7 separate regions of the Homo sapiens genome follow, and all the other regions are reported to be linked to region 3. The links are microRNA targets in miRTarBase. Many come from high-throughput screens and were not tested one by one. Region 3 holds a microRNA gene; each other region holds the end of a gene's coding sequence. Distances are between the middles of the regions.

What was found. Region 3 holds the annotated microRNA hsa-miR-6747-3p (UCCUGCCUUCCUCUGCACCAG, at 1,386-1,406, opposite strand). A microRNA usually pairs through its seed, bases 2 to 8, with sites in the 3' UTR of a target mRNA and lowers its output. Matches are read on the target gene's strand: a 7mer-m8 pairs with bases 2 to 8, a 7mer-A1 pairs with bases 2 to 7 and ends in A, and an 8mer does both.
Region 1: miRTarBase lists MARVELD3 as a target of hsa-miR-6747-3p. Seed matches in the 3' UTR shown: 8mer at 889-896.
Region 2: miRTarBase lists POLR2E as a target of hsa-miR-6747-3p. Seed matches in the 3' UTR shown: 7mer-m8 at 2,525-2,531 and 8mer at 1,183-1,190.
Region 4: the mRNA of CFAP68 is a reported target of hsa-miR-6747-3p. Seed matches in the 3' UTR shown: 7mer-m8 at 1,044-1,050, 7mer-m8 at 1,179-1,185, 8mer at 1,856-1,863 and 8mer at 2,048-2,055.
Region 5: miRTarBase lists TBL3 as a target of hsa-miR-6747-3p. Seed matches in the 3' UTR shown: 7mer-A1 at 1,787-1,793, 7mer-A1 at 2,999-3,005 and 7mer-m8 at 3,168-3,174.
Region 6: the mRNA of LMAN2L is a reported target of hsa-miR-6747-3p. The part of its 3' UTR that is shown has no 7-base or 8-base seed match.
Region 7: miRTarBase lists GPN2 as a target of hsa-miR-6747-3p. Seed matches in the 3' UTR shown: 7mer-m8 at 2,800-2,806, 8mer at 2,663-2,670, 7mer-A1 at 2,057-2,063 and 8mer at 284-291.

Annotation. Positions count from the first base shown.
Region 1 is chr16:71,634,343-71,638,405 of GRCh38, forward strand. MARVELD3 (MARVEL domain containing 3) reads left to right here. Exons shown (of 3, transcript NM_052858.6): 3 at 1-2,123. The coding sequence ends at 461. LOC124903711 (a long non-coding RNA gene) reads right to left here. Exons shown (of 2, transcript XR_007065108.1): 2 at 3,493-4,041. Among named protein-coding and RNA genes, the nearest start is that of MARVELD3, 10 kb to the left of the region's middle. RefSeq lists an enhancer at 3,142-3,693.
Region 2 is chr19:1,086,080-1,090,142 of GRCh38, forward strand. It overlaps POLR2E (RNA polymerase II, I and III subunit E), which reads right to left. Exons shown (of 8, transcript NM_002695.5): 5 at 4,008-4,063; 6 at 3,805-3,883; 7 at 3,393-3,472; 8 at 495-2,641. The coding sequence ends at 3,407. ARHGAP45 (Rho GTPase activating protein 45) reads left to right here. Exons shown (of 23, transcript NM_012292.5): 23 at 1-549. Among named protein-coding and RNA genes, the nearest start is that of POLR2E, 7.3 kb to the right of the region's middle. RefSeq lists enhancers at 1-310, 2,877-2,976.
Region 3 is chr11:62,565,626-62,569,688 of GRCh38, forward strand. It overlaps MIR6747 (microRNA 6747), which reads right to left and starts at 1,446; the gene lies at 1,386-1,446. It overlaps EEF1G (eukaryotic translation elongation factor 1 gamma), which reads right to left. Exons shown (of 10, transcript NM_001404.5): 6 at 1,774-1,903; 7 at 1,181-1,385.
Region 4 is chr11:111,883,198-111,887,260 of GRCh38, forward strand. It overlaps CFAP68 (cilia and flagella associated protein 68), which reads left to right. Exons shown (of 4, transcript NM_022761.3): 3 at 1-5; 4 at 574-2,778. The coding sequence ends at 683. Among named protein-coding and RNA genes, the nearest start is that of CFAP68, 5.7 kb to the left of the region's middle.
Region 5 is chr16:1,978,381-1,982,434 of GRCh38, forward strand. It overlaps TBL3 (transducin beta like 3), which reads left to right. Exons shown (of 22, transcript NM_006453.3): 21 at 1-91; 22 at 172-4,054. The coding sequence ends at 305. NOXO1 (NADPH oxidase organizer 1) reads right to left here and starts at 3,089. Exons shown (of 8, transcript NM_172167.3): 1 at 2,734-3,089; 2 at 2,559-2,639; 3 at 2,276-2,351; 4 at 1,987-2,164; 5 at 1,617-1,801; 6 at 1,410-1,523; 7 at 1,045-1,162; 8 at 537-969. The coding sequence starts at 2,799. The coding sequence ends at 672. RefSeq lists enhancers at 1-211, 212-791, 792-1,371, 1,372-1,949, 1,950-2,529 and 1 more and silencers at 936-1,055, 1,848-2,142.
Region 6 is chr2:96,703,580-96,707,642 of GRCh38, forward strand. It overlaps LMAN2L (lectin, mannose binding 2 like), which reads right to left. Exons shown (of 8, transcript NM_030805.4): 8 at 2,350-3,819. The coding sequence ends at 3,677. It overlaps FER1L5 (fer-1 like family member 5), which reads left to right. Exons shown (of 53, transcript NM_001293083.2): 51 at 1-53; 52 at 636-783; 53 at 889-1,304. The coding sequence ends at 1,113. Among named protein-coding and RNA genes, the nearest start is that of LMAN2L, 34 kb to the right of the region's middle.
Region 7 is chr1:26,876,041-26,880,103 of GRCh38, forward strand. It overlaps GPN2 (GPN-loop GTPase 2), which reads right to left. Exons shown (of 5, transcript NM_018066.4): 5 at 92-3,709. The coding sequence ends at 3,637. It overlaps GPN2-AS1 (GPN2 antisense RNA 1), which reads left to right and starts at 94. Exons shown (of 2, transcript NR_199049.1): 1 at 94-270; 2 at 2,078-2,205.

The sequences.
Region 1 (4,063 bases), not on the chromosome of region 3:
GTGCTGACGGGGAGAAGGCCCAGCAACTGGATGTCCAGTTCTACCAGCTAAAGCTGCCCATGGTCACTGTGGCAATGGCCTGTAGTGGAGCCCTCACAGCCCTCTGCTGCCTCTTCGTTGCCATGGGTGTCCTGCGGGTCCCGTGGCATTGTCCACTGTTGCTGGTGACCGAAGGCTTGTTGGACATGCTCATCGCGGGGGGGTACATCCCGGCCTTGTACTTCTACTTCCACTACCTCTCTGCTGCCTATGGCTCTCCTGTGTGTAAAGAGAGGCAGGCGCTGTACCAAAGCAAAGGCTACAGCGGTTTCGGCTGCAGTTTCCACGGAGCAGATATAGGAGCTGGAATCTTTGCTGCCCTGGGCATTGTGGTCTTTGCCCTGGGGGCTGTCCTGGCCATAAAGGGCTACCGAAAAGTTAGGAAGCTAAAAGAGAAGCCAGCAGAAATGTTTGAATTTTAAGGGTTTCTAAAACGCTCTGACAGATGCAAGTGGTGGTGGAAGGTAGTCTGAGCCACTGCCTTTCCCAAGAATCCCTTGTTGTGGAAGTTTCCAGTGCTGGAAAAGCAGCGAGCCAGCGTTGGTGTGGTGGGCGGAGCTCCCAGTCGCATGGAGCGGTGTTCATGGATGCAACAGACCCTGGCTTCTGGAGTCCTCTGTGAGTGAGGGACCAATCAAAATTATTTTTCAAAAAGCAAAAAAATGGCCGGCCTCGGCGGCTCACACCTGTAACCCCAGCACTTTGGGAGGCTGAGGTGGGTGGATCACTTGAGGTCAGGAGCTCGAGACCAGCTTGGCCAACATGGTGAGCCCCCGTCTCTACTAAAATACAAAAAAATTAGCCAGGCGTGGTGGCGGGCGCCTGTAATCCCAGCTACTTGGGAGGCTGAGGCAGGAGAATCGCTTGAATCTGGGAGGCGGAGATTGCAGTGAGCCGAGATCCCGCCACTGCACTCCAGCCCAGGTGACAGAGCGAGACTCCATCTCAAAAAAAAAAAAAAGCAAAAAAACTGGACCCCAAGAGCCACAAGGAAAAAGCATGTACTACAACAGAGTGCACCTCTTCATTCAGTAAAGGGAGGTCACCAAGAGAATTTGATGAACCTTACCTTCAAAGTTCCTGGGCACAGTGGCTCACACCTGTAATCCCAGAGCTTTGGGAGGCTGAGGTAGGAGGATTGCTTGAACCCAGGAGTTCAAGTTTGCAGTGCGCTATGATTGTCCCACTACACTCTAGCCTGAGCAACAGACCAAGACCGTATTGCCAAAATACCAAAAAAAAAAAAAGTTCATGGAGAGCCACATAGACATGAGACCACACTTCAGCCTGAATTTTTCTAAAACACAGTTGTCTCAAGCAGATTACTCCACACGTTTTTCCACACTGAACTCTCCAGTCCTTCCACTTCCTTAATTCTGCAAATGGAGGGGGTGGGGACTCTTGGGAAACTACTCCTGTAAAATTGAAGTTGGAGGTAGGCGTGGGCTGAGGAAAGAGGAATCAGATTAATTCTCTGGGTTGCAAAGAGGCTATTCTGCAAGCCCCTTACAGTGGCCCTGAAAGCTCAATAAGTGTTTTGTACCTCTTGTAAATGTGCCATTGTGTGAAGCATTAAACCCAACATCTAGAATTCAGGATTCATCCAGAATAAAAGGATGTAAAATCTTTCCCAACAGAAGAGTGTTACTTTTGGTCAGACAACTTCATGGGTTCTTACTGCACATTAAATTATGACTTATGGAACATTGCAATATATTCTCGGTCCTTAAGTTATGACTTATGGAACATTACAATATATTCTCGGTCCAAGTGAGTAAGTTCTTTGCTTTATGTGAATCCAATAAAAAATCCAAAGAATTTTAATTTGGAGTTGATGTCCTCTTTACAATACATTTATAATATTCTCTTAAATACAGACAATTTTTCACATTTAAAAGGTGAGTTCCATTTGAGTTTAGAAAAGGAAATATATATATACATGCTTGTATATGATTGGAAAATTTCTTGAAGAATAACATCAGAAAGTATTAAGTTTTGCTTTTGAAGAGAAGGGGACTTTTCATTTATACATGGCTTGACTGCACATGTATTAATTTTAGAAAAATAAAAAGTAAAAAAGTTGACTTGCTCTCCTCAGTTTTTTTCAGGACCACATTTAAAGTTCAAAGGCAGGTATGGATATATAGTTAAGCAGATTATTAAATGATCAGCCACAAAAACAGCCTCACCCAGAAAGACTTTTTTTATTTTTTTATTTCTTATTTTTGAGACAGGATCTGGCTCTGTCACCCAGGCTGGAGTGCAGTGGTGGGATCTCAGCTTACTGCAACCTCTGCCTCCCAGGCTTAAGCTGTCCTCCCACCTTAGCCTCCCGAGTCACTGGAACTACAGGCCCGTGCCACTGTGCCTGGCTAATTTGTTTATTTTTAGTAGAGATGGGGTTTCACCATGTTGCCCAGGCTCATCTCGAACTCCTGGGCTCAAGTGATCCACCCACCTCAGCCTCCCAAAGTGCTGGGATTATAGGCGTGAGCCACCACGCCAGACCCAGAAAGACGTTATTTACAACAAAGATCTCATGTCGTTTCAGGATCTCTGCTTCCCTCTACCAAACCCTCTGCTGTCTTTCCGGAGACGTGTCCCATCCCACCATAGAGATAAACTGCTAGCTCTGCTCGCCACCCTTTTCCCCTTCCCCTGCCCCATGTGTCTTTCTGCACTAAAAGCATGCTTGGAAATACTTGAGCCTGCCTTGATATTGATAGCTAAGCCAGGCCAACCCTGGCTGGAACCTGGGATAATATTCCCTGGCCATATTCCTTCAACAGTCCGAATATCATTGGACCCAGCAGAAGACCATTATTCCTGTCAGTTGGCGCAGTCAACAGGTGATTGACAAGATCTAGATTTATTCCATTGTAGCCTAACAGATAGATGCTGCCTGGGTTTTGAATCCGTCCCAGAGGAATTTCAGTATTTTCAGTATAGTATTTCTGTTTTCCTTCAGGGGGCGAAATATTAACGTCCATGAAGAAGGAAAACCAAGGGAGAGAAAGGTGTAGGGTCCACTAACCCCCATGAATTAAAATGATGTCTGGGTCAATTCACTTGCTCTGCTGTAGGGAGAGTGTAAACCAGCAGCTTACTGTGCCGGAGTGATGAGTGGGCAGTTTTAGTCTGACGTTATTTTCAGTTTTAAATTAGAGGAATGTAACTTCTCAACTATCAGAGCCCTCAACTACTATGTCCCTGTGGACCGCTAGGAATTTGTGTGGGCCCAGCAGGAGATAGGATTAGCAAGCTGAGTAGCTGTTGCCTAAGTACTTTAGAGTCTTTCACTGCCCTGATTATAAACATCATGGTACCCCCTAGTGTGTTAGAGGGTTGTCCTGATTTCTGGGAAACCACACTCTTCTTAAATTTATCCCATTCTTTATTATGTTTCTCACCAATCCCCTTCCATTTTGGAAACATTACTGAGTAGCGTCACTATCCATTTGTACATTATTTTATTTTTAGAGTATTTTCACATACTTGCTTTTTTGTTGTTGTTGTTAACTTCCCACAGTATCACACGGTTGCTTTCATTTGAGCCTCCCCACATCCCTGTGGGTGAAGATTGGCAGACTTAGCTTCATTTGTCATATTGTCTGAGGCTTAGAAGGACTGAATGGCTTGGCCAAGATGACAAGGCAGTAAAAAGCGGGGACTTGAACCTGGTGGTCCTGCTCTCGGTTCATTTGTATTTCTCTTCATGCTCATCCCTGAACACCACGGGAATGGCAGGAGACCCTCTCCCAGAAGGACACCTAAGAAGGATTTGGGGCCTCTGTCAGTAACAAATAAAAGCTGACCTCGGACAAGAAGATCTTCAGTCTGTTGGCCTGTTGGCTTCCTCTGCCTCGTGCCATTTGTGGGTTCCTTTCAGTCCAAATATCTATCAGTAAGGTCCTGGTTGAATAGACAAATCCATCCATACAATGAAGTCGAAGGCCACTTAACAAAATGTGGCTCCTCTTGTAGGAACTGATCTGAAAACATCTGGAAGATACAGTAAATGAAA
Region 2 (4,063 bases), not on the chromosome of region 3:
ACGGCATAGCTTAGGTGCGCCGTCCTGGGGTCGCTGCCGAGAGCGCCTGGACTTCGACGTCCCACCAGCGGGCGCCTCCTCCCAGAGGCTTCCAGGAGCACGAGGGCCTTGCGGCACAGGACTGTGCCCTGTGCTGTCCCCTGCACCCCGGCTCAGCTGAGCTGGGGAACACTGCTGTCGTGTGAAGTCACAGTGGCCTTGTTGGTGCCCACAGGGCTGTGTGGATGGAGGAAGCTGTCCCTGCCCAGTGCATCCCCCAGGTCATCACGGGGACGCAGGAGGCAGGCCCTGCCCTGCCCTCTCCTCACAGGTCTGTTGCAGGGACTCCAGAAACCATTCTGGGAGCCGTGGATGGGGGCGGAGCTGGGGTTTGGTGCAGTTTCCAGGGTGCAGTACAGCAGGGCCTGAATACTGGCCCTGGACTCCCTTTTCCAGAACACCAGGTGTGGCCACCTGGGGCTCAGGTACACAGTGGGGTCTCTCGGAAGCCACCGTGTGGTTCTTTCACAGGCACGTTTATTTTGCTGAAATAAAAAGTTTTTAATCGGGTGTTTTCTGTGGCAGCTGCAAGCTTAGAAGATTTTCTGTGGCAGCTGCAAGCTTAGAAGAAGGGGCCAGGGAGGGGACAGAGAGAGCCCCGTGGCGTGGCCCTGGGCCTCCCCCTAGGGGAGGGATGTGTGAGGAAGGGAACCCCCCGCCACGGGGCCCCGCGAGGTGGGAGCCCGGGTGGTCTTCACCACAGGCTGTGCAGACGGTCAGGCATCGAATGACCTCGTCACGTCCACCTGCAGCCCAGGGCAGTCCAGGAAAACGTTCTCGATGACGGACGTATCCCCCGGCTCTAAGGTTTCGCACGTCAGCCCCACATGGCCACCAAGCACTGGAAACGTGGCCCATGCGCCTGTGGAACTGCATTTTTTTTTTTTTTTGAGACAGGGTGTGACCCTGTGGCCCAGGCTGGAGTACAGGAGCACAATCGTAGCTCACTGCAGCCTCGGCCTCCTGGGCTCAAATGATCCTCCCGCCTCAGCCTCCCAAAGTGTTGGGATTACAGGTGTGAGCCACTGTGCCCAGGTAATCTTAAAGTTTTTTGTAGAGGTGGGGGGTTTCTCTGTGTTGCCCGGGCTGGTCTTTTAACTCCTGAGCTCAAGCGATCCTCCACTTCCTGGGTTCAAGTGATTCTCCTGCCTTAGCTCCCAAGTAGCTGGGATTACAGGCATGCACCACCACGCCCAGGTAATTTTTGTATTTTTTGCAGTGATGGGATTTTGCCATGTTGGTCAGGCTGGTCTCGAACTCCCGACCTCAGGTGATCCGCCCACCTCGGCCTCCCAAAGTGCTGGGATTACAGGCGTGAGCCACCGCGCCCGGCCACCTCCAGAATTTTCTCATCTTCCCAAACTAAAACTGTGCACATGACACACTCTGTCCCCTCCCTCCTCCCCAGCCCTGGGAACCCCCATCCCCACCCAACTCCCCAGTCCCGGGAACCCCCATCCTACTTCCAGTCTCTGACGACTCTAGTGACCTCCTAGGAGTGACATCAGTGTTTGTCCCTTTGGGTCTGGCTTGCTTTGGCCAAGACAATTTTGAAAAAAGTACATTTGGAGAGAAGGGGAAGCACTGTCCCCATCACACACACAGTCCGCGGCCTGGGGATCTGGGGACCCTGCTGCACAGAACAGTGGGCGCGTTACAGACCACCGACCGCCCGAGGGTGAATTACATCTTAATAAAGCTACTGTGAGAGAACCACGTGGCTAGGTTAAACTTGGGCAGGCGAGGCCTTCTGAAATCAGACAGTAAGCAAACGGGGAAGTAGAGCCAGATCCCAAACGTCTGTAAGAGGAACTGGCCGCAAACCACAGCTGCACAAGCCAGAGAACAACTCCACACCCTCACGGGAAGGGAAGAGACAGACACGCTCACGCCTTACCCAGGAGCACGAAGTGGGAGGGCAGGGCGAGGGCCTGGGGAGACACTGACCCCTGAAGCCAGCGCGAGGAGGGCACACCTGCCAGGCTGACCTCGTGTGCTTGGGGTGAGGCAAGGCCACCTGCTGGAAACCTTGTTAGTCGGCCTGGTTTCTGTATCAAGCAAATTTATTTGCTCAAAACATCTTTACCATTTGAAAACACCCAACCTCCTACAACAACCGAGAACTCCAGAGCTGGCATCTCGCACCCTGGTGGCTTGAGCGCGTGCATGGCTGTGAATGGAGTAAAGAGCCGAGGCCGGGCGGGGGCCGCCACGCATCAGGGCCCCCGAGGGAGGGAAGACGAGGGGTGGAAGGCCGAGGGCCCAGGAGGAAGCAGTGGCTGGTGGGAGACCCGGACCCCAAACCCCCAACAGAGGGGACCCAGCGTGGTCTGGGTGAAGACCCGGCACCAGCTGCCCCCAGGTGACCTCCCTCTGGGGGCCTTGTTCCTTCTGAGGCTGCATCTCGCACAAATCCACAGGTGAATGGGGCGGGCTGGGCCACAGGAAGCCTCACCCCAGGACGGGAGAACGTGGGTGGAGGCCACCTGCCTTGGGGAGTCCAGAGGAGCAGCAGCCGTGAGAGCTGTGGGGGCCGGATTCTGGCAGGGCAGGGGCGTTTGTCCTGCAGGGATGGGGGTCGCTGTGTGTCCGCCTCTAGGGGCTAGGAAAGGGGGAGAGTGGTCACACGACAGGGGCAGATCCAGTATGCCCAGGACAGCACAACGCCCACCGAACGTGACGGGGTGCGGGAGGCCTGGCAGGAGGCGGCCCAGGCCGCAGTGCAGAGGCCGGACGGCTCCCTTGTGCCCAGCGGTCACACAGGCGTGGGCAGTAGCTCTGACCTCAAAGGAACCGTGCCAGCGTCAGACCAGGCCAAGCCCCACCCCTGGGCTGAGTGTGAAGTGGGGCGGCCTGCAGGACAGCAGCTCGCCATGACCAGAGTCCAGGGGAAGCTGGGAGGCTCTCGCCATGGGCAGAGGCTGTCCCGCTCCTGAGACTCCGGCCAGTCCCTCCCAAGGTGCCCACTCAGGGAAGGGTTGGCCTGAAGCTGTGCCTCCTCTCTCAGCTCTGGGGTCTCTGGGCAGGTTTCTAAACCCTCTTCTGGAAAGTCCCGCCGCACAACTGCCCTGCAGGTGAACGTCTCCTGCTTCTAAGGTGGGTCAGCGGCGGAGAGACGCACGCCCCGCGTACCAGGACTCTCCCGTCCAGGCGCACAGCCCCAAGAGCTGCAGCCTACGGTCGGGTGGGGTCTGGGGGTCTGGGGGTGTCCTGGGAGCGCCTGGTGGCCCAGCTGGGCTGGTGCTAGGAGGGTCTTGCTGCCGGACAAAGCAAGAACAGCCCTGCACACCGACGGAGGGGACGACACCCCTGCCTCTGACCCCACCTCAGTGCCTGTCCCTCGGCCGTCTCACCTGTCAGGCGGTAGCTACTGCACCAGCCGGTAGGTGATGTACCTGCCAGCCGTCTCACTGGGCCGGATGATCTTCACCACCTGCAGAGACAGAGAGCAGGGGCTGCGAATGCTTGAGGGGTCTCACTGCAGTCACCAGACAGCAGGCGGGCAGCACACGGGCTGGGGATGGCCGGCAGGGGTCCGAGATGGCTGACCCTGGGCTGTGGGACCCGCTCCCTGGGAACCTGGGTCACGCTCTTCTCTGGGCCCAGTGGCCCTGGCTTTAAGAGGGGGATATTGGGGGTGTGGTCTCGAGGTCCCCTCCAGGCCCTGGATCAAGGGGGAGGGGCTGTCGGGGAGGGACAGAAGCCCCCTTCTCCGAGTGGTCAGCTCAGAGCAGCCCCAGGGCCCCTTCTCCCCACAGGGCTCACCTGCCCACGCTTTATCCCAAAGTAGCGCGCCACAGGGTCCCCCGCCTGGATCCTGGGCAGCTGGTTCTCTCGGAGCTTACTGCGAAGCACCGTCAGGAAAATGCCAGACAGGGCCGTTGGGGGGGCAGGGGTGTGTGTGGGGGGGGAACGCGGAAGTCTCGAGGGACAGGGAGGGGCGGGGCCGGTGGGGCTGGAAAGGATACTATCGGGCCAGCAGCTCTGTCACCTCCTCCTTGGTCATGACGACGTGCTCAGGGAC
Region 3 (4,063 bases):
GGGTTAATTATCATGACCTATTTACACACACCAAAAATCCTGCTCACTCTTGACCTGCACCTGTGCTAAATTCAAGGCAAATCACTAGTTCAAAAAATACATCTTTAAAGAGTGCCTGTGTCTGGATGGAGCCTTCCTGGTCTTGTACAAAATACCCGGGAGTAAGAACTTTCAGCTATACCCCAAGTTGCTCCCATCTATTAGTGCAATGCTTGTAATTCACAATTCTATGCACAGCTACTGTGTCCCTACCAGTGGGTGCTCCTTTAGGCTGGTTCACCCGGTATCCAAGCCATTACAAGATGGGAGAGGGTGAAATGTAAACCCTAGCAGACCAAGCAGTAAAAAGATGAACGGCTTTGGAAATGACAGGGTGAGTGGGAGGAAAAAGTACAGAGAAAGAGGAGTTCCAAAGCAAAGTGACCACAGAATATATATTTCTCAAACTGCTTGAACTCCCAATAAAATGACTTGGAGCAGTGATGGAAGAAAGACTCCATCCCAGAGAACTGGGCAAGCACTCAGCGTCCTACATTTTTCATGCCAAAAATCTCGTTTTTACTATATTATTTCTTCCAAGAAGCCCTACCTTTAACTGAAAAAGGGATACAGAGGACACCTACTTTCTTCTACTTGGGGACTTTACTCGGTTGTGGAACAATGAACTAGACAGACACTACTTAGCTATGATCTTCATCCTTTTTCTTAGTGAGCAATTTTTGTACAGTCTGATTCAGCAAAACAGAAAACAAAACAATTCAAAGGACCCTGCTCTGGCATCCACTATCTCCGCACAGCCGGGCGCGTGGCGCACCGCAAGGCTCTCTGCACTTTCTTCCTCCCCACGCCTCTCCCTGTATTTGTTCTCAGAGCTCTCAAATGGTCAAATGAGCTTGCTCAAAACCAACTTACCACTATATCAAAATCTGTTCCTGTCTTTGTTGGAATAGGAGTTCAATCTTCCCCAGTACTGGCTGTACTTGAAACTTGCTCTCCACAATCAAAATTTGCCCAATTCCTGATTATCAGCCAGAAAGCTGCTTTATTTGCAACTAAAATATACCTTTAACTTTATATGGACAACCTAAAATTCTGGCTCTAGCTGTGTGTGAGGGGGGACATACAGAGGTGAGAACAGGCCTTCTTTGGTCCCACACCCTCCACCCTCCAATATCCTTACCTCTTGGGCAGGTGAGCGAAGGGGTCCTTGGCCTTGGGCTCAGCAGCCAGCGCCTGCTCACATTCATCCATCTCCTCCTCAGGAGCAGGGGCAGCCGCCTTTTTCTCCTCCTTCCGCTCAGCCTGGGGCTTCTGCTTCTCTTCCCGTGAACCCTTCTCTTTCCGTGGTGTGTCCTTTTTAGGTTGGGTCTCTGCAAACTTTTTAGCTGGTGCAGAGGAAGGCAGGAAAGTGAACGAATGTTCTGCCTCTTTCCACACCCCTCCAAAACCACACAGAGCAAGCAAGGTAACAGAGGAAACTGACGAATGGGACAAGTAAGGAACTTAGGCCCCAGACTGCTCATCAGTTCACTGTGTGTCCTCCAGCAACAACACACTCAGCAACAAATACTTTATATCGCAAATCTATATAGTAATACAAATTAGTCAGGGTATGAGTGTACACGAAACTGCACATAATATTAGCTACCACATTGACACCCTACATTCTGCAGGTCCCCATAACCCAAAAGCAAGACAGGAAATCAAGGGGTTGATGCAGAGCAAACCAGACCCTGATCCTGGCCATATGCCTCCCAGTCTCCTCAGACTCACCATCAAACTGGGCCATCTTCTCACACAGTTTCACTTCGCCCAAGACAGCCCGGAACTGGGGCTGGTTAATGCAGGTGAGGAACCAGCGGTTGGTATTGGGAAAGGCCTGGCGGAAAGAAGGCTCTAGAACCTGCCAGGACATAAGGGTGTAAACAAAGTCAGTGGAAAGGCCCTGAAGAGTTCTGTTCACAGCAAGAGTCCTTGCTCTACCTAAGTCCCAGTGCTCACCTTCTTTTCAAACCCTATAGACAATAGCTTCATACAACATCATCCTTCCCTGGATTACTTCCCATTTCTTCATTTTTTTCAATTTTTTTTTTTTTTGAGACAGAGTCTCACTCTATCGCTCAGGCTGGGGTGCAATGGCGTGATCTCAGCTCACTGCAGCCTCCATCTCCTGGGTTCAAGTGATTCTCGTGCCTCAGCCTCCCATGCCTTAGCCTTCTGAGTAGCTGGGACTACAGGTGCCTGCCACCACACCCAGCTAATTTTTGTACTTTTAGTAGAGATGGGGTTTCGCCCTGTTGGCCAGGCTGTTCTCGAACTCTGACCTCAAGTGATCCGCCCACCTCGGCCTCCCAAACTGCTGGGATCTCCGAGGCGGGCGGATCACGAGGTCAGGAGATCGAGACCATCCTGGCTAACACGGTGAACCCCCATCTCTCCTAAAAATAAAAAAATTAGCTGGGCGTGATGGCGGGCAGCTGTAGTCCCAGCTACTCGGGACGCTAAGGCAGGAGAATGGCGTGAACCCGGGAGGCGGAGCTTGCAGTGAGCGGAGATCGCGGCACTGCATTCCAGCCTGGGTGACAGAGTGACTCTGTCTCAAAAAAAAAAAAATTAGCTGGGCGTGGTGGCACGTGCCTGTAGTCCCAGCTACTCCAGAGGCTGAGGCAGGAGACTCACTTAAACCCAGGAGGTGGAGGTTGCAGTGAACCGAGATCACGCCACTGCACTCCAGCTTGGGTGACAGAGTGAGACTCTGTCTCAAAAAAAAAAAAAAAAAAAAAAAATTTTAATAGAGATGGGGTCTCACTATGTTGCCCAGGCTTATCTTGAACTCGCATGCTCAAGCAATCCTCCTGCCCTGGCCTCCTAAAGTGCTGGGATTACCCGTGAGCCACCACACCTGGCCTCCATTTCTTTTTCTAATCTTTTTTTTCAGTGTAGTCCAGTTTAATGGATGGATGCTTGGGTCCATCCTCCATTTAGGAGTAGGAGTAATAATTGTCTTGCTCCTTTACAAAACTATTTCAGATCTACTGTTTCCAATCTTTTAAATTTCAAACGTCGGCCAGGAGCGGTGGCTCACGCCTATAATCCCAGCACTTTGGGAGGCCGAGGCGGGCAGATAACCTGAGGTCAGGAGTTCGAGACCAGCCTGGCAAACATGGTGAAACCCCGCCTCTCCTAAAAATACAAAAATCAGCCAGGCATGGTTGCACATGCCCGTAATCCCAGCTACTCAGGAGGCTGAGGCAAGAGAATCACTTGAACCCGGGAGGCAGAAGTTGCAGTGAGCCGAGATCGCGCCATCGCACTCCAGCCTGGGGGACAAGAGCGAGACTTCGTCTCAAAAAAAAAAAAAGATTGAGACCCACAGAGGGCTATCGAGGACTTTTTTGCCAAATAAAATCTAAACACTATAGGTATTTACTATCTATATTGGCCATACTATACACACACGCACACACACACACACACCCCCCACACCCACCCATCCATCAAACTTCAGAAAGTAAAGAACATTCAAAGAAAATATTCAAACGCATTTAGAATAATGGACAGTCCTGGCTGGGTGTGGTGGCTCACCCCCGCAATCCCAGCACTTGGGAGGCCGAGGCGGGTGGATCACCTGAGGTCCTCAGGAGATCAAGACCAGTCTGACCAACATGGCAAAACCCCATCTCTGCTAAAAATACAAAATTAGACGGGTTTGGTGGCGCATGCCTGTAATCCCAGCTACTTGGGAGGCTGAGGCAGGAGAATCGCTTGAACCTGGGAGGTGGAGGTTGCAATGAGCCAAGATCGTGCCACTGCACTCCAGCCTGGGTGACAGAGCAAGACTCTGTCAAAATAAATACATAAATAAATAAATAATGGACAGTCCTTCAAATTAAACTTAGTGTCTGGTGTATTAAGCATGGTCAAAGAAAAATAAGAATAAACAGCTTCAGGTAGAACTGTTGTCAGTTTTCAGTTTGCAAAGCTTCAGGTAGAACTGTTGTCATTTTTTAGTTTGCAAAGACCAGAAGAGGAAAAAAAATCTTGTCATGGAAACAGAACACAG
Region 4 (4,063 bases), 49 Mb from region 3:
ACATAGTACGTGGACTGTTTTTTCAAATTCTTACATTTTCAGAACCTAACTCAGTGACCGGCACATAGAAGGAACTCAAATAAAAGTAAACTGAATAGGTGAATAAGTGAGGCTGGGCGCAGTGGCTCACACCTGTAACCCCAGCACTTTGTGAGGCTGAGGCAGGCAGATCACTTGAGGTCAGGAGTTTGAGACCAGCCTGGCCAGCGTGGTGAAACCCCATCTCTACTAAAAAAAATACAAAAATTAGCTGGGCTTGGTGGCGCATGCCTGTAGTCCCAGCTACTCAGGAGGCTGAGGCAGGAGAATCACCTGAACCCGAGAGGTGGAGGTTTCAGTGAGCAGAAATCAAGCCACTGCACTCCTGCCTGGGTGACAGAGTGAGACTCTATCTCAAAAAAAAAAAAGAAAAAAAAGGTGAATAACTACATGAATGAGTAAACAGGATTTTTTCTTCAATTTTAACAGGACTTACTGTCTATTCCCTAGAAATAAGAGCAAGATCAGTTACTAAAACTCCTTAGTGTTGACTGTTTTCATTTGTCTTTCCTTCCTTTTTTTTTCTTCCCTCAGGATTTAAGCGAGAGCCTCACTGGTTCCCAGGACATCAACCTGAACTGGATCCTCCCCGATACAAATGCACAGAAAAGTCAACTTACATGAATAGCTATTCAAAGCCTTAAATTGGGCATCACTCAGGATGTGTATAAGATCTTAATATTGACTAGTTTCACATCCAGGTTTCTAAGAAATGATAAGATACTTCACTTTTCCAGAGTGAAATGTAGGAGGGAGCACATTCTAAGTACAGCTAAAAATTTAGCTCACTGTAACACAGTTTCACTCTCTGAATAAATAAAGCAAAAAACACAGTAAATATTCTTTATCCCTTTTTTTGTTGTTGTTTTAACCAAGATTTAAATGTCAAATTTAATACAGCAACTCAGTTCTACATTTGGGGTGTTGTAGAAGGGCCTTAAAAAGAATTATTTTAGGCCAGGCACGGTGGCTCATGCCTGTAATCCCAGCACTTTGGGAGGCCGAGGCAGGTGGATCACGTGAGGTCAGGAGTTCGAGACCAGCCTGACCAACATGGTGAAACACTGTCTCTACTAAAAACACAAAAATTAGCTGAGCATGGTGGCTCACGCCTGTAATCCCAGCTACTCAGGAGGCTGAGGCAGGGGAATCGCTTGAACCTGAGAAGTGGAGGTTGTGGTGAGCTGAGATCATGCCACTGCACTTTAGCCTGGGTGACAGAGCGAGACTCTGTCTCAAAAAAAAAAAAAAAAAAAGAATTATTTCTCTGAAGTCTACAACCACTGTGGTCTTCCCTTCCTTCTGTCGTAGCAAGACCTCAGAATCTAGCATAACTTAGGCTAGGTTTGGCTAGATGCTTTCTGGGTATAAGCCAGAGTCGTATAGTGCAACTTTGCTGTGACCTTAGTGAACATCCCCTCTTGAGGACTACAAAAACAAACGTAACTTTTTAAAATTATTATGGAGAATTTTACGTAAAACAAAAGTAGACAGGCTAGTCTAATGAACTCCCATGTATCATTACCCAGCATCAACTATTTATGACTAATCTTACCTACTTCTACTTTGTCTTATTGAATTAATTTTGGAGCAGATCTTAGAAATAGAATTTAATCTATAAAAATCTTGGTGGGCTGGGTGCGGTGGCTCATGCCTGTAATCCCAGCACTTTGGGAGGCTGAGGTGGGTGGATCACCTGAGGTCAGGAGTCCAAGACCAGCCTGGCCAATGTGGTGAAACTCCATCTCTTCTAAAAATACAAAAATTAGCTGGTCTTGGTGGCGGGCGCCTGTAATCCCAGCTACTTGGGAGGCTGAGGCAGGAGAATTGCTTGAACCCAGGAAGCAGAGGTTGCAGTGAGCTGAGACGGTGCCATTGCTCTCCAGCCTGGGCGACAAGAGCGAAACTCCGTCTCAAAAAAAAAAAAGAAAAGAAAAAGAAAAAAAAAATCTTGGTATACTGGCTGGGCACAGTGGCTCACACCTAATCCCAGCACTTTGGGAGGCTGAGGCAGGAGGATAGCTTGAGGCTGGGAGTTCAAAACCAGCCTGGGCAACATAGCAAGACCCCATCTCTACCAAAAAAAATTTTTTTAAAGATTTCAGTATATTTCTCAAAAAGATAAGGACTGTCAATTGTCTACTCCCCCCCAACAAAGGTCACTAAGGAAACCTGTTGACTAAACAAAGCTCATTAAACCTATTGTAGTGTAGCAAAGGAGACCATCAACTTGACACAGAGTCTTGGTAATGATTCAAAGGGAGGATGTTAGAGTAAGGTATTTATAAGGATTTGAGATAAGGGTCCAACTGGTTTAAAATGAGTCAAAATAGGGAACTAGTAGAGACTGAGAAAGGGTTGTGAATAGCTTAGGTTTGGTAAACTTAGGAAATCAACAGTCTTAATTTTAATATGGTTAAACTGATTAGTATTTCCTATTTTTTTATCTACTGTGTAAGAAGACACTATAATATATGGGCATTACTGAGAGATACTGCCCATATGTTGTCCTCGTAAGCAAGGAGATATTTTTTATCTCCCATATATTACCTCTCAAACCTTTGTTACTTTAGTTTCGAGATATAGATCCAGAATTTATGTTGTTACTCAGTAGTGAGGAAGTTTCTTTTTTTTTTCTAAATGGCTATCAAGTTGTCCCACCATTAGTTATTGAAAAGACCATAATTTTTTCACTCCTATTCAATGCCATTTTTATTGTAAATAAACTATGTACATGTAGGTCTGTTTCTGGGCTACTATGTTCTATTAGTTTAATTGTCATTCCTTGTATTATCTTAGTTATGATGCCTTAATTGCACCATCTTAATTATGATAATTTTATTACATTATTATTATTTTATATCTTAATACCTAATAGATCAAATGCTTTCGTCTTGTTTTCTTCAAGAATATTAGCTATGTTTGAACTTTTGCATTTCCATATAAAATTTAGAATCAGCTTGCTCCATAAAATGACACTGTTAGGATATTGATTGAAACGGTATTGCATCATTAGGTCAGTTTTAGAATTTGAGTTCTCATTAATTCTAATAATTTATTTGTATGTTCTTACAATACAAATATTGTTTTATAGACACATATTTTAAGTTTACATATCGTATGTCTTATTCTATTTCCTATGTATCTAGCACATTTTTAAAATTGAGGTAAAATATACATAACATGGCTGGGCGCAGTGGCTCATGCCTGTACTCCCAACACTTTGGGAGGCCGAGGCTGGCGGATCACTTGAGGTCACGAGTTTGAGAGCAGTCTGGCCAATGTGGTGAAACTTTGTCTCTACTAAAAATACAAAAATTAGCTGGGCGTGGTGGCAGGCACCTGTAATCCCAGCTACTCCAGAGGCTGAGGCAGGAGAATCTCTTGAACCCAGGAGGCAGAGGTTGTAGTGAGTCAGTATCATGCTATTGCACTCCAGCCTGGGCGACAGAGCGAGACTGTCTCAAAAAAAAAAACCTATACATATATATATATATATATATATATATATATATATATATATATATATATGTATGTATATATATACACACACATAACATAAAATTTACCATTTTAGCTTTTTTGTTGTTGTTGTTCATAGAGACAGGGTTTCACCATATTGCCCAGGCTGGACTCAAACTCCTGACTTCAAGCAGTCCACCTGCCTCAGCCTCCCAAAGTGCTGGGATTACAAGCATAAGCCACCATGTGTGGCCCATTATAGCTATTTTTAAGTGTGTAATTTAGTGGCATTAAGTATTTTCACAATGTTGTGCAATGTTCACAATGTTGTGCAACCATCACCACTATCAATTTCCAGAACTTTCTCATCATCCCGAACTAAAACTCTGTACCTATAAAACAATAATGTCTCATTCCCCGACCCCCACTCCCTCAGCTCTTGGTAACCTGTATTCTACTTTCTGTCTCTATGAATTTACCTATTCTAGGTACCTCATTTAAGTGGAATTGTGTAATATTTGTCCTTCTGTGTCTGGCTTATTTTACTTAGCGTAATATTTTC
Region 5 (4,054 bases), not on the chromosome of region 3:
CTGGGTGTGCTCTTGAGGCGAGAGGCCCCCGAGGAGCTGCTGGCCTACGAAGGCGTGCGGGCAGCGCTTGAGGCCCTGCTGCCCTACACTGGTATGTGGGCACAGCCTGGGGTTGGGGGATCCTGGTGGGCGTGTGGACCACCCCCCTGACCTCCCTCTGTCCAACCCCAGAGCGGCACTTTCAGCGGCTCAGCAGGACCCTCCAGGCCGCCGCTTTCTTGGACTTCCTGTGGCACAACATGAAGCTCCCTGTGCCGGCCGCCGCCCCCACCCCCTGGGAAACCCATAAAGGCGCACTGCCCTAGCCGGTCCGGCCTCTCTCCAGTCCATCCTGAACCCCTGGAAAACCCATAAAGGCCGCTCTCCTGGCCGGCTCTGTCTCTCTGGACTGCAGTCCAGCCCCCCACCCTGGCCAACACCCTACCTAGCCAGCCAGAAGGGCACTGGAGCTGATGGTCTCGGCCCTGCCACGCCCATCCCGCACCCTGGCCTGGCAGAGATCCAGCCCGCGGCTCCGCACGCTTAGACGGTGGGGGTCATGCAGAACAAGCTTTACTCAGAGGAACAGCAAATGGCCCCCTCCCATCCCTGCTGGCCAGGGAGATCCGCCCTCCCCGCTCCTCCCCAGCCCTGGGATGGCGCGGTCCATCCCCTCATCGGGATCCTCGCGCTCACTGCTCCGTCGTGGGGTGCGGCACAGAGTCCACGCACCCTCGAGGGCGGCCCTGGCGCCGTGGGCGCCGCTCCAGGGCCCTGCGTGTGACGGTGCAGCAGCGGCTCTGGATGGCGCCCGGCGAAGGTCGGGTGGGCACGGTGGGGGGAGGGGCGGTGGCCTGGGAGGGTTCAGGGAAGCCCCGGGCCTCACCCGCCGGGTCGTCTCCTCCACGGAACCCCGTCCCGCTCAGGAGAGCGCCCAGCCCTTCCGGCCGCAGCAGCACCGCGGGGAGTAGGCCCGCCCGGTCGCCGTACCTGCGAGGGGCGGGGTGTGGTTAGGGCCCCGCCCGCCTCGGCTAGCCTGCCCTGCCCACGCCCGCTCCCGCGTACCTGCATAGCCACCAGCCGCGGTCTGACGTTTCCAACACGCGCACGCGCGCCCCCGCGGGCACGGACAGCTCATCTGCGCGGCTGCTCTCGTAGGCGCGGGAAGCACAGAACTGGGGACCTGGTGGGAGTGGGTGTTTGGAGTCACCGCGGGGCCACAGAGGACGAGGCCCGCCCGCACCCTTCTCCACATTCTCCTTGCTTGAGTCTGCTGACGGCGGGGCCGCTCTAAGACCGGTTCGGGGCTTCCTCTAGGTGCGGAGACCAAGCACGGGCTCCTGGCCCGCCCTGCCCGCGGTGCTTCTGGCCCAGTCTTGCCACACGGTCAAGCCGCAGTGGTGGCGTGAGGGGTGGGGTTAGGCGCATACCGCTGCTCCCTAGGGACGGGCCTCCCTCCCGGCCTTGGCCCGGGGCCGCCTCCTCCAGGTAGGGCGCTGGAAACCAGGCGGTCTGCCGGTCTTCGTTCTCCACCAGCCACCAGCCTGTGCGCAAGAAGCGGGCAGGGACTCAAATCTCGAGGCTCCCTCGGGTCCAGGAGCAGAGGAGCAAATCCCTGGGTTCTTGGGGGGCCCTACCTGAGGGGTGCCGCAGCAGCACGTCCAGGCTCTCCTGGGCCTGCGCCTGAAAAGGCCTATCCCGCGTGTCCTGGGTACAGAAGGGCTGCAGGCAGCGCAGGCTCTGAGCCTCCAGACTGTGGATGGAGAGGCGGCCCGCAGCGCGAGAAAGAGGCTGCTCCTCTGGGGTGGGCAGGATCACCCGGCTGGGAAGGGCAGCCCGTACGAGTGAGAGGTAGGCGGATGGGGAGGGTGAAACTGGGGGCGCCACCCCGGCAAGACCGCCAGCCTCCCACTCTCTGCCCCTATTCGCTGGCTGTTCCCCCCCACCCTGGACCTCTCCCAGCTCCAAACGCCGCTGCATGCTGGGAGTTTGGGGCGAGTCAGGCACCTGCCGGGTGGCAGCGCGGGCTCCAGGTCCAGGGGTTGCGGTGCGAAGAAGCCAGTGATCGTCGGGCTCCGTGCCACGCGCTCTGCAGTCGCCAGCAGCCTCCGAGAATAGGTTTCCAACAGCTGCAGGCGCGCCAGGCCGCGGCTCGTGCGCCCCACGCGTCCCAACAGTGGTGCATCTTAAGGCACCACAAAAACGTACTGTGATACGCCGCTTTGGGCTTCACTGGTCCCTGGCGCCCCCAGGCAAGCCACCGCCTTCCCCGCTCCCGTACCCAGGCTGGCCTGACCGAGAAGCTTTGGGAGAACGCGGTCAGATCTCCGCAGCAGGCCCGCCTCCACCGGGAAGGTCTCCTTGAGGGTCTTCTGAGGGCGGGAACCAGGGCATTGGTCTTCCAGAGCCCACTGTGCACCCTTGAGAGGGCGGGGTCCCTCACCCGGATGGCAGGGGCTGGGAGCTTCAGCAGGGACGAAGGGCCTCCAGTGGGAGTCACTGATGGGAGGCAGTCCAGTGGGAGGCAGCCGCGTGGGGAAGCCGCCACCGCGGCATCAGGGTGGCCCAGGGTCACTCACCTTGAGCTGCCTGAATTCGTCCCAACTCCTGCGCACGAAGGTGTCGCTGCCGTCTGACCAGCGCACAGAGAAGGCAAACGTCTGGGGGACAAAAAGTTGGGAGTGCCGTGGAGGTGCTGGTCCAGGCACCCCCTTCCTATCCCTTGGGGCCACTAAGGACCCAGCCAGGTCTTACTTGGAGCCTCTTGATCTGCACCAGGGCTGCCCCTTGCACTGAAACTGGGTATCGGGGGCCTGCCATGGCTGTGGCTTCCAGGCTGCAGATTCCTGAAATGGGCGAGGACCCTTCTGCCTCCCCGTGCTTGAGAGGGCTCTGGGGGACCCAGAAAACCCCCTGGGATAGAATCCTGGCAACACCTCAAGCCTGTGGGGTCCTTGTGGAGCCGCCCCAGCTGAGTCCTTTGCAGCTTTCTTGCTGTCCCCCAAGCCCACGATCTGGGGGCAGGAGCACAGGGATTGGGGGACTTCCAGGCAGAGCTGCTGGGAGGAAGAAGAAGAATGAGCTTTCCAGCCCTGGAGGCGTGCAAGACTGAAGAAGGGGCGAAGGGTAGGCGGGACTGCTGCCTGGGGCCCTCCTGCCTGCCTCTGGCCACAGGAGGAGGGAGGAGAAGGCAGGGCTAATCAAAGCGCCACCTGTCCTGCCCACCTCTCTGGATTCCCCTACCCTGTGAGGTAATTGCCCTGCCAGGGTGCGCCCAACAACTTTGAACTGGCCTGGGGATTTCTGTGCAGAACCAAGGACTCAGTGCTTACAGCTTTAAGTGCTTTGTCTGACTTAATCCTAATGCTGGAGGAAAGGTCTCTTAATGTCCCCAACTCATAGAGGAGGAAATGTGTGTTAAATGCGTAATTATTGTGAGCTGTTCTATACATGCTGGGGGAGGGGCAGACCTCACAGGCTCACCCCAGGGGTTCCCCTGCAGTGAGGAGACTTGGGGTAGGAGAAAGAGGGCCCATCTGTGCAGTCACTGGCATTTGGTGGGTGGGGGTGGTGGTCAGGGAAGTGGTCACTAGGGCTGTTTTGAGAACCACCTCTCAATTCACGATTTGCCATGACTTACTGCAAACATGGCCTGGGCAGAGGCTCGCCCAGGTGCCCCACCTCTCTGGCTGCTTCCTTATAGTTCGGGCTTCGGAAGCCACATTCAACCCTGGCACACAGTGGTTTTTCCTCGTGCTGGGGCCACCAGTTCTGTGTTGGGATGCACCTACTCCAGCCCCTTCAGGGAGCAGTCAGCCTCTAAGGCATCCCTCCAGGAAGCTGCCCTGGCTGCAACAAAGGGCCTTTGTGTGTCTGTCCCACCAGCACTCTCTCTCATGCCCTCAAGCTGTCCCTGGTCTTGGCATGGGCAATGAACACCTGCTCACATAGGGCTGATTTGCAGGGTTCCCCCAGCCAGCTGTCACCTTCTCCCTGTCTCAGCTGAGGGCCCAGCTGACCTGGTGGGGTCCAGCGTGTGAACCCAGGGGAGACCTTGCTCCCCTGGAAGACAGGA
Region 6 (4,063 bases), not on the chromosome of region 3:
GCCGGGCGAGGCCAGTCGGAACCCAACCAGTACCCCACACTTCATCCTCCCCTGTAAGGGTCCTTGGGGCAAAAGCACCAGATCTTTCTTGCTCCTCAGTGTGTATGGGGTGGTGACCAGTGGGCCTATCATGGAGAGGTGGTAATTACCTCCCACCCCACAGCTCTGTGCTCAGTTACAATCAGCAAAGAACAGACTTGGGGTGAGGGTTGGAGTAAGCAAAAGTTGCCTTTTTTTTTTTTTTTTTTTTTTTGAGATAATTGTCTCACTCTGTCACCCAGGCTGGAGTGTGGTGGCACAATCTCTGCTCACTGCAACCTCTGCCTCCTGGGTTCAAGCGATTCTCCTGCCTCAGCCTCCTGAGTAGCTGGGATAACAGGCACATGCCACCATGCCCGGCTAATTTTTGTATTTTTAGTAGAGACGCGGTTTCACCATGTTGGCCAGGCTGGTCTCAAACTCCTGACCTCAGGTGATCCACTCACCTCGGCCTCCCAAAATGCTGGGATTACAGGCGTGAGACACTGTGCCTGGCCCAGTAGTTGCTTTTTTAAAAAAGAAAGCTCTTTGCATCAGATTACTTGACCTGAAGGTTCTCCCTGCCATTCTCTGACATCTCCCTGGCTCCTGGACAGACGCACCAACACCTCTTTCACGTGGCTGCGGTCACCAGTTCAAAACTTCTGCTATATTTTCTGGAAACGCTATCGCTTCAAACTCATAGCCTTTATGGTCATATCGATTATAGCACTTATGCTGTTTAACTTCATCTATTCAGCTCCGGTGAGTGGCAGCCATGGGGGCAAGGACAAAGGTGGTCTCGGGATGACTCTGGGGACAGCGTCTTCAGCTTGCCACCCCAGGCTAACTGTTGTCTGTTCTCTCTAGCACTATTTGGCCATGAGCTGGATCAAACCTCAACTTCAGCTGTATCCTCCCATTAAAATATTCAATATCATCAATTCACTAAACACCAGCAACGCCAGCTCTTCCATCCTTCCCACCCAGGATCCAAACCTAAAGCCTACAATAGACCATGAGTGGAAACTCCACCCAGGACCCACAAATCACCTGAGTGATATTTTCCCAGAACTTCCAGCCCCAGGAGACTAATTAGTCCATGCTGCCTGGCTTTCCTCCTGCTACCAACAGCCCTCCCCTTGGGCTGGCTACCAGTTCTTTGTTTCTATCTTCTAGAATATATGCAAGATGCTAGGAATATTCTGGCTATTGTGTTCAGAAATCACTTTCAACAAGACGAGCAGAGCTGTAATTTTCCACTGAAATAAACAAGTTCTATAACAGAGAGCCATCTTGTAATTTGGGGGCGCTGAAGACAACATGAAAGGCTGAAGATGCCAGCCCTTCAGACAAGACTCACAGGGACAGGGAGTGATGTCATCTTTATATACCACCTCTAGTCCACAGGGTCTCTTCATGCTAAGAGGCTCGGAATCAGAGGGCAATGGAGGGAAAGGGTGATTGTGAGAAGTGGCCCTTATGGGTAAGCAGCAAGCCGAAGCACTGGCTCTCACCCACAGCATGCATGTACAGAACAGCCCTACCACGGACCAGGCATCTCCCTCCTCTAGCACAGCTAGGATGACACTGCCCAGGACAACATTCCACCCATTCATGATGGGAAACATTTGTTTCTAGAACAAAAAGCAAGAACCAAAGCAGGGCATCCTATGCCAGGTCAGGTGGTTTTCTTGCACCATACATTTCTCTAAAGGACCCCAAGGCAGGTGGGGACTGCATTTCATGTCTTCCCTGCCCTCTTTAAAAAGCCTCAAGGTATTCATGAGCTGGAATCATACAAACCCTACAGGTTCCATCTCTCTCACTCTGCCCCTCCCCTCTGATGAGACCCCTTCCACCTGCACTGCTGCCTTGGCCATCTCAAGAGCCCACCTAGGTCCTCCCACGGGTCCATACAATCTCCCCTTCAACTCAAAAAAGACAAAACCACCATTTTCTTTTTCAGTTCTCCCTGCTCCAAGGCCAAGCTCTAGGTCAGTTTGTCCTCTGGCACCCTGGAGCCATTCTACTATTGTGGAGGGGAGGTGGGAGGAAGATGCCTCCACCTGAATCCCACCTGCAGGAGAGCACTATAGCCTGTGCTGTTTAAGTGCATGGGAAGGAAAGAAAGCCTGAAGAGACAGAGACCTCTGCCTAGCCAAGGTGACCCCCTTTCCTTCTGAGCTGAGCTGAGGGCTTTTCCAACCCAGGAGAAGGCAAAACAACGGTTGATGGGCTTGAAGCTCAAAAAAAAGGCCTGCTCAGAATAAAGGCCTGAACTTTCCCCAAACCCACTCCTAGAAGAAAGAACACAGTCAGAAGCTCATGTTTGGTTCCATCGGTGATTTTAAGAATTTCATTTAGGCTACAGAGGTTCATAGGAGGACTCAGAGTTCCAGGCCCTCCAAGGAGACTCTGGCCTGTAACTGATTTAATCCCAGGGCAGTAAGGTGAGCAGCATGTAACCCCTTGTCAAATAAGGCAGTGGAATAAGGGTTGACAGAGGCCAGCACTCAGGCTGTGCTGCTCAATGACAGTGAACTCTTCCAGGCACAGATGATGAGGGTCTGTTGCTCTCAGACTTGGAACATGAGAACAGCAACTGTCTCTTGTCCATTAAGAAAAAAAAAGCCAAATTTCTTCTCTGGGCAATATCCAAGCCCAAGGTGTAAGAAGAAAGCTTCCTTACACTTTCAGCACTCAAAGTGGGATTCCAAAAATCGTAACTACAAAACATGCAGCTAAGCAGGCTCTAGCAAGTCCAGAAACATCTCCACATGGTCAGACCACATGACAAATGTTGCTTTTGGTTTGATCAAACCTGGAGCTGGTCAGTTGCACAGCTAATCCATGGCATCCATGATGTCTTCCAGGCTTCTCTTGATTTTTACACCAACCTTTAGCCAAACTTCACTGAGGGCCTGAAGAGACTTGATTGGGAAGGCCATGGACATGCCAATAGACCCAAGACCCATGCTAGGGAACAGTGATCCAAAGCAGAAAGCCATCTCCCTAGGGCCACCTAATGAAGGCCAGTGAAACGCAGGTGTGTTCTGCAGCCCCAGGCCCCAACAGAGAGGCATCCAAATGCCTTTCCCAGCTCAGGTTGCACACAGAGAGGACAATGAATGGAGTGAAAGGAAGGTAAGGCAGGGAAGAAGTTTCCATCCTGGTTTCCAAAGAAAGCTCCTCAGGTAGGCAGAGGGTTGGGTCAAATGCAAAACCCAACGAATGGATGGTCAGAAAGCCTGTGGTGTTACCAGTTTTTAATTCTTTGTGGATTCAAAACTGAAGTAGAAGGGCCTTCTGAGTCAAACAACACGGCAGCCTGGGCTATGAAATTCTGTTCTGTGATTTTGGCATCACAACCACGTAAATTCTCTTCACACCTCTGCTCCCACATGGAAGGACTGCAGGGAAAGGCACATCACAGCAGCATTGCCCTGGGGTGGGTGGCTTCCCAGACCAGAGTTAGATGTCCCCATGCACAACCATGGGAATGCGGGGTCCCTGCATTCAAAACTCCAGTGACAGAATATAGTCCCCAACCAGCTGCTAGAGACAAGAACACTCTCCAGGCTGCATGCTCAGGCCAGTGCCTGCTCCTTCCATACCTCATGGGTGACAGTCACAAAAGTGGTGGCAGCAGGAGGGCTCAGTAGAAGCGCTTTCGGCTCTGTTCCTGCCATTTGTTGTAGAGTATGATACCAATGACTATGGCAAATACAGAAAACACCAGGGAGAAAAAGACGATGAGGAAGAGGGCCAGGCCACTCAGGGGCGGCAGTGGAGCTGTCACTGAGGAAGCAAGAGAGAAGCAAGTCAGAAAACAGGGAGCCCACCCAATAGGGAAGGATCAAACTATAGGCTGTCCGGCCCCCAGTTTCTGACACCTACTTCTGGGAAGCCAGAGCTTAGACCCCCTCTTTCCAACTGAGAAACAAAGCGGCCCTCCTGCTGCTCATCTGTAACTTGAAGGGGAAAGGCAGATGAAAGTGCTCCCTACCCTTCAGAAGAAGAACACAGAGCAGAGACCGCCCTG
Region 7 (4,063 bases), not on the chromosome of region 3:
TCCACCCCAGGTATAAAAATAAGGCTGAAAGAATACATAAAATATCTCCAGGTATTTACAGAGATGAGAAAAAAAGAGAATACACAAAATATACATTTGAATATAGAATTTATTTTTCTCTTAAACAGATGACCCCATAGAAAGTTTCCGTTATGGGATTCTGGGTGACTCATTTTCGTTTTTTTTTTTTTTGAGATGTACTTTCCATCTTGTTACCCAGGCTGGAGTGCAATGGCGCGATCTCCGCTCACTGAAACTTCCGCCTCCCAGGTTCAAGCGATTCTCCTGCCTCAGTCTCCTAAGTAGCTGGAATTACAGGCGCATGCCACCATGCCCTGCTCATTTTTTTGTATTTTTAGCAGAGACAGGTTTTCACCATGTTGGTCAGGCTTGTCTTACACTCCTGACCTCAGGTGATCAGCCCGCCTTGGCCTCCCAAAGTGCTGGGATTACAGGCGTGAGCCACCGTGCTCGGCCTTCTCTTTCATTTTCTAAGTTTTTTACTTTCCTATATTTATTAGGAAATTTAAAAATAATCTTAAGGATGACTGCCACATGCCAGCCATAATGGAGGATGGTCTTTCTTCTACCCTAGACATTTCACACTGAACAGGCCTCACTTGGATCTCGGACATCTTCCTTTCTGCACTGTGCAGATCCCCTCAGTATATGCAGAGAACAGAAAATCATTTTGCTGCCAGTGGAAGGTAGACAGAAGCTACGTTTATTGGGGAAGAAAATACCCTTGCTGTCAAACCATGGCCTGAAAATAAAGGCCTTGGATTACTCCCACCCATCTCCACTCCATGGGTGCAGAGAATGCTGAGGGTGCTTGCATACGAGACCATAAAGTTGTAAAGGATGCCTTCCAGCCCCCATTTGGTTTGTTATGGTGAGAGCTGGGGCCTCTGTGAGTGGCAAGCATCAAAACCCACGACCACAGCCGTTGGTACTGCTTTCAAAAGCATAGCACCCACCCTAATGCCCTGATAAAGGATTTGTCCAGTAGCCTGGGCGTCAGGATTCCTGGGCTCTAGGCCCCACAGGTGATTCACAGCTAGCCCCAGGCTGTGCCTCCTGGCCTCAGTTTTCCTGGCTTGCTCTATTGGTACTTCCTACCTACTCTGTGGGGTGTTAATAGGGGTGAGGTGCTTTGAACTTCTCAGATGAAAGAGGCTGGGAAGCAGCACCCAGTTATTATCCCCTTTACAGCCAGGCGTGGGAGCTGAGGTTGCTTTCATACTGTTCCAGCCACAGTAGCCTCCTCATAGCCCCTCATTCATCTGCCTTTGGCTCTGGCTGCCACAACCAGAAAGCAAAGCAGTCAGTCCTATTTCAATGCTGTTTCAGAACAGATGTCCCTAAATTAATTTGCCAACTGCCCAAACCACTGGTGAACTATCTATGATTCAGTAATACTTTACAGGTGCCTAATTTCTTTCTCCTGATTGGCTGCAAAACCTGTGGGACAAGGGCTGTGACTTCTCACCAATAAATATACCAAAGGAGGGATACTCGCAATTTAGTCAGCAAAATGGGTTATGAGAAAGCCAGGCTGACCAAAGTTCAAACTTCTCATCTTTCTGCTTCCTCACTGTAACACGGGCAATGGCTTATTAATTCTCCCCATCCTGTCTATCTCTAATGAGGATTGTGTGTGTGGAAGCACTCTAAAATACCAAGCACTTCATATGTGTTAATAAGTCCAAATGTGGCCGGGTGCAGTGGCTCACGCCTGTAATCCCAGCACTTTGGGAGGCCAAGGCGGGTAAATCATGAGGTCAGTAGTTCAAGACCAGCCTGAACAACATGGTGAAACCCCGTCTTTACTAAAAATACAAAAATTAGCCGGGCATGTGGTAGGCGCCTGTAATCCCAGCTACTCGGGAGGCTGAGGCAGAGAATTGCTTGAACCTGGGAGGCGGAGGTTGCAGTGAGCCGAGATTGTGCCACTGGACTCCAGCCTGGGCGACAGAGAGAGACTTTGTCTCCAAAAAAAGAAAGTCCAAATACATGCAAATAAAACTTGGCATAACAGTCTTGCCCAAGCCATCAGTCCTGCCCCTTCTGCCACCAGGTTACAACTGCAAAAAATTAGGTTGGGGTGCCACCTACTGGTTGAAAAATATATGAACTGCATCCAGCCAGTTGCAAGAGCAAAGAAAAAACTTCCAAGCCCTCTTGATTTTTGCCACACTCTCATAGGAACTGCCATATTATATAATTAATATTTTTCTTTACACAACTTACTATTTTTTTTTGAGACAGAGTCTTGCTCTGTCGCCCAGGTTGGAATGTAGGCACAATCTTGGCTCACTGCAACCTCCGCCTCCTGGGTTCAAGCAATTCTTCTGCCTCAGCCTCCCCAATAGCTGGGATTATAGGCGTGCAACACCATGCCCAGCTAATTTTTATGTTTTTAGTAGAGAGGGGTTTCACCATGTTGGCCAGGCTGGTCTCGAACTCCTGACCTCAGGTGATCCGCCCGCCTCAGCCTCCCAAAGTGCTGGGCTTACAGGCATGAGTGAACACGCCCAGCCTTGTATTTCATTTTTGAAGTACACCTTTTTTTTGAGACAAAGTCTCGCTCTGTCACCAGGCTGGAGTGCAGTGGTGCAATCTCAGCTCACTGTAACCTCTGACTCCTGGGTTCAAATGATTCTCCTGCCTCAGCCTCCCAAGTAGCTGGAACTACAGGTACGCGCCACCTATGCCCAGCTAATTAAAAAAATTTTTTGGTAGAGATGGGGTTTCACCATGTTGGCCAGGATGGTCTCGATCTCTTGACCTTGGGATCCGCCTGCCTCGGCCTCCCAAAGTGCTGGGATTACAGGCGTGAGCCACCGCACCCAGCCTTGAAGTAAACTTTTAACCACTACTGTAAATGGAAAACTAGTTAACACTTGTCAACAATAGAATAAAACCATAAAACAAATACAGTGAATATAAAACATTAACAAAGTTCTAGTTAGGAAGTGTTGCCTGTGAAAGCTGAAGCTTGAGGCTCTGTTAAAACTGAAAATTGTGGGACATGGTGGCTCACACCTGTAGTCCCAGTTACTCAGGCGTCTGAGGCGGGAAGATCACATGAGCCCAGGAGTTTGAGTCCAGCCTGGGCCATATAGCAAGACCCCATCTTTTAAAAAACAAACCTCAGAACCAAAAACTGAAGATTAATAAAAACACATGACTGGAGACTGAATGTAAATCCTATGTGACTGAATGTGAATTATATGCTTTGGGGAAATACTGATTATTCCAAGGCTAGGTGACACTCCCTCATTCTTCCCCAAACCCCTGGGCCCGGAAGACTGAAGAAAAGTTTGGAAGTCACAAAAAGTAGAAAATAAACTCTTGTATTGTAGCACATTTCATCACAGCCTGACTAGGACCAGTGCTCGACTTTCTGGTGGCAGGGCCCAGAGCTCACGGACACCACTGACAGTATGGGGGGTGTTCTGCTTGGCACCATGTCTGGCTTTTTGGCCAGAAGTCCTTTGCAGAGCTGAATATCCCCTTGCCAGCCCGCCAGCTCTGGCTGGGAGGACTTGCTCTTGGGTCTGCAGCCTGCATCAGGAGCCTCCACTTTCCCCAGTGCTGGATTATGCATCCTGCTCTCCAGGGTCCACCTTGTTGCTACAGCTGCATGGCTTCCTGCTCCACTGACTGGTTCGAGGGTGCCAGGTACTTCTCCTGGATGCCCAGTGTGCTGAGGAAGGGTGCGTCAAGGCTGATAGCATAGGCAGAGGATGGGGAGCTGGTCTGGGCAGGATCTGACTTCCGCTGATGCCTACACTCCAACCATGTCCATCCCTCTCTTCCTCATAATTATAGGGACCAATCAGGTATGAGAAGCCTCCAAAAACACCCAGACTCAAATGCTCCTCTATCTGCCTCTTCCACACACTGCTGCGGATCAAAGGACTGGACAGTACTAACCTTGCAATTTTGCGTTATGGCACATGCTCTGGAGCCAGACTAAGGGAGTTCAAAACCTGATGATGTCTGGGTCTGGGGTCTGACGAGGACATGGAGGTTAGCCATGGCTAGGTTGGCTATGTTA